Homo sapiens: one gene and its partner. The protein of the gene in region 1 interacts with the protein of each later gene in a pairwise test. Each region holds a gene or a part of one and is shown in the gene's direction. Other genes may lie near its edges.

Region 1 (3,500 bases):
AGCTCTTTGGGGGTGCTTGGGATAGCAAGAGAGCCGATGGGCAACAGCTGCTTCTCTCTCCCTAGGAGGCCACATCAACAGTCATGATGTGTGGATGTTTAGCTCCCATCTGCACACCTGGATCAAGGTAGCCTCTCTGCACAAGGGCAGGTGGAGGCACAAGATGGCAGTTGTGCAGGGGCAGGTAGGCACGAGCTGCAGCGGCTGCCCTGGGACACAAGGTACAGATCTGTGGATGTGCTGGAGGGAGGTTCTCTAAAACCCTCTCTTTGTAAGAAGGGGTCTGAAGCCCCCCAAAAAAGGAGACTTGTCCAAGGTCACATAATAATGGCTGATGCTAATAATAATAGCAATTACTGTAATAGTAACAGCCTGATGGTCAAGGGTATGGGCTCTGGGGCCATAGAGTCTAGGTTTGAATCTTGACTGTGCCACTCAAGAATAAAAGAATCTGTCGGCCGGGCGCAGTGGCTGTAATCCCAGCACTTTGGGAGGCCAAGGCGGGCGGATCACGAGGTCAGGAGATCCAGACCATCCTGGCTAACACGGTGAAACCCCGTCTCTACTAAAAATACAAAAAATTAGCTCGGCGTGGTGGCTGGTGCCTGTAGTCCCAGCTACTCAGGAGGCTGAGGCAGGAGAATGGCATGAACCTGGGAGGCGGAGCTTGCAGTGAGCCCAGATTGCACCACTACACTCCAGCCTGGGCAACAGAGCGAGACTTTGTCTCAAAAAAAAAAAAAAAAGTCAATTATCTTTGTAAGCTACATCCCGAATTCAGAAACAAAGATGCTTCTTAGAATCAATTAAGTGGGGTGGTAAAGTCTCAATACTAGCTATTATTATTAAGCATCAGCTTGGTGCCAGGTATTTTACAGCTGTAACCATGCAGGTTAAGGTCTCATCCCCGCTAAATGAGAGGAAACCGGCTCAGGGAGGTACAGCAACTGGGTGGAGGCTGCCCAGGTGGTGGCAGCACTGGGCTCGGGGGTCAGTTTGGTCCTGAAACTGGGTTGGGGACAGGGATAGTTTCCAGCTCAAAGACTGTAAGGACTGAAGCGATGAGGCCGAGGGCCCTAAGGCCCTGGCACCCGGCTCCCCGGCCCATGTCCTCACTTGCAGCTGTTCGCGGTGGGTGGCTTCGACGGCCTGAGGCGCCTGCACAGCGTGGAGCGCTACGACCCCTTCTCCAACACCTGGGCGGCCGCCGCGCCCCTCCCGGAGGCCGTGAGCTCGGCGGCGGTGGCGTCCTGCGCGGGCAAGCTCTTCGTGATTGGGGGCGCCAGGCAGGGCGGCGTCAACACGGACAAGGTGGGCGTGGGCCTCAGGCGCGAGAGGGCGTTGAAGGCTGGGGTGCCCACTGTGTGCCAGGCGCAGAATTGGGCGTTTCCATGCCCTTGTCCATTTATTCACTTAATCCCATCAACAGCCCAGACCAGTCACCTCCATGTTTCAGGGAAGGAAATGAGCAGAAAAATGACCCCAAGGTCACACAGTGGGTCAGCAGCACACTGGGACTCAAATGTTTGGGCTGGTGCCATGTAAGTTTCATACATTTTAAAAATTGAGGGCAAGATAGTTAAAATGCTTTTGTTCCATTCCAAAAACAATACACTTACTACTGAAAATTTAGAAAACACAGAAAAATAGAAAAAAAAAAAACCCATAATCCCACCGTCTAGGCAGAGCTGCTATTCATATTTTGGTGTGTTGCCTTACAGGCTTCCACTGAATTGATTTTTGTTTTTCTTACAGTTTTGTTTTGTTAGAATTTTGCATTCTGCATTTTATTCTAATTTAGGTATGAGCATTTTCCACGTGATTATCAACTTTACAGCCATCATTTCAATGTCTGTACTATTCCACATGGTGGATGAACTAGAGTCTACTCATCTTTTATTGTTGGGACATTTAGGCTTTTTGCAAATAAAAATATTTATCATAGCAGTTCCTTCCCTCCCCTGATGGCCTCATAAGCCTGTGGTCCTAGGACTTGACTCTTTCCCAAATTAGGGTGCCCACGCTTCCTTATTCCCTGACCACATTCTTCCAGCAAACCCTCCTGGAGCTGAGTGATAGGCACTCATGGTGGGAGGCCCCATTTAACACCATCCATGCAGCACTGATTTGTTATAGGCTGCTGTGGGGGGAGGGGGTCTCCAAGGAAACAGTTGAGGAAACAGAGAGTGAGGTGAGCAGGCAGCTAAATACAGAAACTGTTAAGGGCATCAGAAACACCCATGGGCATGTGGACAGCTGTAGAAATAGGGCTGCAAGACACCTCAGCTAGAATCTAATGACCTGAGAGCACCAGGAAAAGAGAAGGGAGTTGACAGTGTATGCAGCTAGGAACACATCCCCGTCGGGGGTCTGCTCTGAGGACCCTCTATAACCCTAAAGCAGACAGTACCTCTCCCAGCTCAGTATGATGTGCTCTATGATTAATCTAACATGAGGCGACTGTGTTCTCCATCAAAGGAGAGACTGTTCCTGTGTGTGTGTGTTGAGGGGTGAGGGGAGGGGGGAACACCAGGGAGACCTTTAAGGATGGGGTGGCATTTGAGCAGGACCTCGAAAGATGAGGAGGCTTTTGACAAAGGGAGTCCAGAGGCAGAGGACAGAACATAGAACTAGATGAAGAGCCCTTGAGGGCAGGGACGGTGGACCTCCCCCTCCCTCCCAGATGCTGGCTCAGGCCTGGTGGACACTGGCAAATGTCGTTTTGAATGAGTGCCCCCGGGGGGAGAGGTGGCAGCATGTGGGCGGTGGGGCATTTGTTGGGGGGGGCGGTGAGTCTTCACCACTGCTGCTCTTGCCCCTCAGGTGCAGTGCTTTGACCCCAAGGAGGACCGGTGGAGCCTGCGGTCACCAGCACCCTTCTCACAGCGGTGTCTCGAGGCTGTCTCCCTTGAGGACACCATCTATGTCATGGGGGGTCTCATGAGCAAAATCTTCACCTATGATCCAGGCACAGATGTGTGGGGGGAGGCAGCTGTCCTCCCCAGCCCTGTGGTAAGTGGAGGCTTCAAGGCAGGAGAGCGGAACCCGCTTCTAAGGCTCTGGATCTTGGAGCTTGTGAATCTTGTGACTCCATCCTAGGTGGTTTTATTATACATCACTCTCTAGCTCATCCTCACAGTGATAGTGAACCATGCATTTCACAGATGAGGAGACTGGCCTTAGAGAGGTTCAGCACCTGGCCCAGGCCAACAACTAGGCCCTGTTAAGGCAGAGCCTAGAACCCTGCAGTCCCAAGTGCTATAGCTTTGAGTGGGGATTTGGTCCAAATGACCCTGTGGTCTCTCCTGCCCCGAAGGCCACTGCTAGTAACCAATCATGAGGTAAGATGTGGGGAAGGGAGTTGCTAAGGTCTGCTCTAGTGATATCAGAGCAGGGAGGCCCAAGTCCTGGAAGCTCTGGCCCCTGCAATTCCCTGCCTCCCCTACCTTCTTCTCCATCCCCTGAAACTCCAGAGACTACACAGATATGGTTGGACTGGA
Region 2 (4,178 bases), on another chromosome or scaffold:
GTCCTGCTGCCCACGATACCCACTGTCCACCCTAGGGGGACTGGCCGTAGCCCTGGAGCCCGCAAACACCATGCAGGAATGCAAGAGGGTCTCAGCTCCCGAGTCCCAGGCTGGGAGGGCCCACAGTCCAGTAAACTAATCAGGCCCCGACACATCCAGGAGAGCAGCTCCAGGAGCCTGCATTGGGGAGAGAGCCTCAGACCCCTGCCACAGGCCTGCACCCCAGAAGTAGGAGCATGGGAAGACCTCTCCTTGGCTCCTGGCCAGCAGAAGTCACATTCCCCAGCCCTCTGGCTCCAAGGCAGCCTCACGTCCCAGTCACTCCTTGGCACACCCTACCAGTTGGTCAGAGCTCACTGCCAAAGGGCACCTCAATGATGAGTGGAGGGAACAGGTGTTTACCAGGAGCTTGCATGCTTTGCCTCAGGGATGATTAGGGACACAGCCAAGAAGGCACGCTATGCCCATTTTACAGATGAGGAAACGGAGGCTCAGGTTGGGCTGGTGACTAAGGGAAGCAGCATGTGGCAGGTGGCTTGAGGCATGTCTGTCCATCATGAGTAACTAGGGAGCAGCCCTGCCACTCCTCATGCGATGCACCAGGAGCCAGGGAAGCTGCTTCCTAGGGGATTCTAGCTAAGGCCAGAAGCATCTCCCTGAGTGGTGGTGGAGGCCTCTGTCTACTCCTCCAGGACTGCCAGGGGATAGGAGGGCACTGCTGACCTCACAGAGCCTCTTGGGTGAGTGAGCATCAGCTGAGCGACACCAGGTGACTACGCTTCTGCCCAGTGCTGTGCCCCCCTCTGACTCGGGCAAGGCACCACCCTGAACGCCCCACCCTGTCCCATGGAGGCCGCAAACTGCTCTGCAGAGCCAGGGTCTCCAGGAATGGGGAGGGCAGTCACCCTCATTCCACTTGTGTTCATGACTCAAAGGACTGCCCAGGTCTCCAGGCCCATAGAACCCCCAAACCTCTTACTAGGCCACACTGGGGACCTTGAGCAGCAGGCTTGGAATCCTAGGCCTTGTCTCCAGGTACATATCAGTACCCAGGCTTGGGAAGCTTTGGTCTCAGGGGGGCTGGCACTCAGGCCCTCTGCCTCAAGGAAGAAGCATGTCCAGATCTCTACTGTCCAGCCCTGCTCCCTGCCCCTATCCTTCACGGGGTCCCTAGGACAGGGTTACAGAAGCCTCATGCTGTCAGGGGATGCTGCCACCCTAGTTCCAGGGTGGCTCCGCCCAGCCCCTTCCTGCTGCCGCCCTCACTGACTCACCTGTCCAGCCTCCTACTGGGCTGGGGTGAGGGCTTATTGCCCCAGAGCCTAGATAGGCACCAGAGGCAGCTATAAAAGCATGTTGGGCCAGTCCTCAGCATCCTAGTTCGCCACTGTCTGCTGCCACACGATGCTGGGAGGCCTGGGGAAGCTGGCTGCCGAGGGCCTGGCCCACCGCACCGAGAAGGCCACCGAGGGAGCCAGTGAGGACCCAGGGCTCCTTTCTACCTGGGCTGGGGGGATCTGGGGCAGACTGGGTCTGTGGGAGGCGGATCTACGTAGGCAGGCGAGGACCTGCGGGGAGGCCTTGGCCCCTCAGGAACCCTGGTCTCCTGCTCTACCAAGTCAGCACGGAGTTGAGGGGTGCAGACCTGGGGAGGTCTCCTGGGGGCAGGGCATGAGTCCTGGTGCTGGGTGAACACTGGCAGCTTGGACCCTTCCCTCTGGAAATCTGGGGAGCCTTTCTTGTCAAAACAGCCTATTCTGAATAACCTATGCAGGAAAAGGAAGATGGATTTTTATTTTTACCATAACTTTAAAGCTTCAAAGATTTCTTAACAAGTCACCAAGTCTGTTCAAAGTCAAAAAGGGCATTTTCAATTTCATCCAAGTCCCCTAAAGCATGTTTATTTTTATTTGTATTTGTATTTGAAATGGAGTCTTGCTCTGGCACCCAGGCTGGAGTGTAGTGGTGCGATCTCGGCTCACTGTAACCTTTGCCTCCTGGGTTCAAAGTGATTCTCATGCCTCAGCCTCCTGAGTAGCTGGGATTACAGGCACCCACCACCACGCCCGACTAATTTTTGTATTTTTAGCAGAGACGGGGTTTCGCCATTTTGGCCAGGCTGGTCTCAAACTCCTGACCTCAAGTGATCCATTCCTCTTGGCCTCCCAAAGTGCTGGGATTACAGGCGTGAACCACTGCACCTGGTCCCGAAGTGTATGTTGTATTCAGAGGTCAGCAGGTATGTGTGGGGAGGCCCAGCCAGGCCCCACTCATGGGTCATCGTGTGAAAAAGTCTTGCCTGAGTTTGTGTCCTCTTTCTAAATGGCAGCAGATGCGTATTTTGTTTTTGACTCTGCAGCTGGTGTGGACCACCTGCTTTAACCTTTCACTAGCCTCTGAGTTTTTTATGATTCCTGTTGGGAGAAAAGCTCAGCGTTGGGAGAAAAGCTGAGGCAGGGCTTGCTAGACTTGCTGGCTCCTTGCTTCTAGCACTGCCATTCTCTCAAGTAGCCATATGTTTCTCATTCACTTGATACACTGTTTCCTTTCAACCTCCACATCCTCACCACCTGTTTCTTTGTTAGATCACCAATAAATAGCGTGGGCTCCCAGAACTCGGGGCCTTCGCAGCCTCCACACTCGCGATAGCGCCCTGCTCCCATTTTCTCTCTCGAACTGTCTCTTTGTCATTCCTTTGACTCCGCTGGACTTGCCGCCCCCGTGACCTGGTGTTGGGTCTCATCATCCCAACAGATTCCCATTCTAAAGATGAGGGAACCAAGAGGTGGAAGGTAGAGTTAGAATAAGAACCATTTCTTCTGACTCTGAAATCCTTCAGTTCTAGCACGCTACCACCCACACTTTAAAAAACTCTGAAGTAGGCAGAGAATTCCGTTTTGTTGGAGGAATTGCTTTGAGAGACCTGGTCTTAGTGGATGAGGCTTTGGAAACCAACCTGAGGCAGGCGCTAGCACATCCTGAGAGGGGTGTGACCTGGCACACAGGCCCAGCCTGGGCTTCATGTCTCAGCTGGCAAGACTGCCTGCTCATTGCCATTCCAGGCCGGGCAGGGCCAAGGGGCTTCAGGGACCCATGCCCTCATGGGGCTCATTGAGCTCGTCTCCCAGCAGCCAAGGCCCTGGCGTCTCCAAATGAAGCCAGCTGTGGGGGAAGGTCCTTCTCATGAGTCAGTCTGTCCTGGCTGGGGGTGGCACCCCAGAGCCCCATCTAGGATGCCCAGGGATGTATAGGTCTGTTGTGAGGATAAGCCAGCCCTGAGCCCTCACCCTGGACTGGGAGGGCAGTGGGCCTGCTCTGAGCCCTCACCCTGGACTGGGAGGGCAGCGGCTCTGCTCTGAACCCTCACCCTGGACTCGGGGGCAGCCGGCCTGCTCTGAGCCCTCACCCTGGACTTGTCTCCTCTGTTCAGTTCATGCCGTGGAGGAAGTGGTGAAGGAGGTGGTGGGACATGCCAAGGAGACTGGAGAGAAAGGTACAGCCGGCTGAGGTCGGGCAGGGAAGGAGGGAGGGAGGAAGGGAAGCTAGGTGCTGGGCCAACCTGTTCTTTGACTAACCAGGTCAAACTCTGCCCCTAATGTTGCAGCCTTTCAGAGCCTCTTGGCTGGGGCAGTTATCTATGCTCATCAGAGGCCACAGACTGTACTGCGTTAGGACACTGTCTAGATGGTTCTCTCTGTGGAATAAGAAGACAAAGTCACACAAGACTATGTGACAGCACACTGGGACAAAACATTTAACATGGCAGGGTGCGGTGGCTCATGCCTGTAATCCCAGCACTTTGGGAGGCTGAGGAGGGCGGATCATGAGGTCAGGAGATCGAGACCATCCTGGCTAACACGGTGAAACCCCGTCTCTACTAAAAATACATAAAAATTAGCCGGGCATGGTGGTGGGTGCCTATAGTCCCAGCTACTTGGGAGGCTGAGGCAGGAGAATGGTGTGTACCTGGGAGGCAGAGCTTGCAGTGAGCCTAGATCATGCCACTGCACTCCAGCCTGGGCTACAGAGCAAGACTCGGTCTCAAAAAAAAAGAAAAAAATAATTGCTGGGGGCGGTGGCTCACGCCTGTAATCCCAGCACTTTGGGAGGCTGAGGTGGGCGGATCATGAGGTCAGGAGATCCAGACCACGGTGAAACCGCATCTCTACTAAAAATAC

The links. The genes of interacting proteins can lie anywhere in the genome.
Region 2: the proteins of KLHL35 (region 1) and FAM25G interact in a two-hybrid assay, tested with the Homo sapiens proteins (one large-scale study listed by BioGRID).

What each region holds. Positions count from the first base shown.
Region 1 is NC_000011.10:75,423,204-75,426,703, reverse strand, and holds part of KLHL35 (kelch-like protein 35), read left to right. Parts: intron 1-65; coding exon 66-184; intron 185-1,122; coding exon 1,123-1,311; intron 1,312-2,823; coding exon 2,824-3,012; intron 3,013-3,500.
Region 2 is NC_000010.11:47,488,901-47,493,078, reverse strand, and holds the start of FAM25G (protein FAM25G), read left to right. Parts: upstream 1-1,378; 5' UTR 1,379-1,404; coding exon 1,405-1,477; intron 1,478-3,430; coding exon 3,431-3,493; intron 3,494-4,178.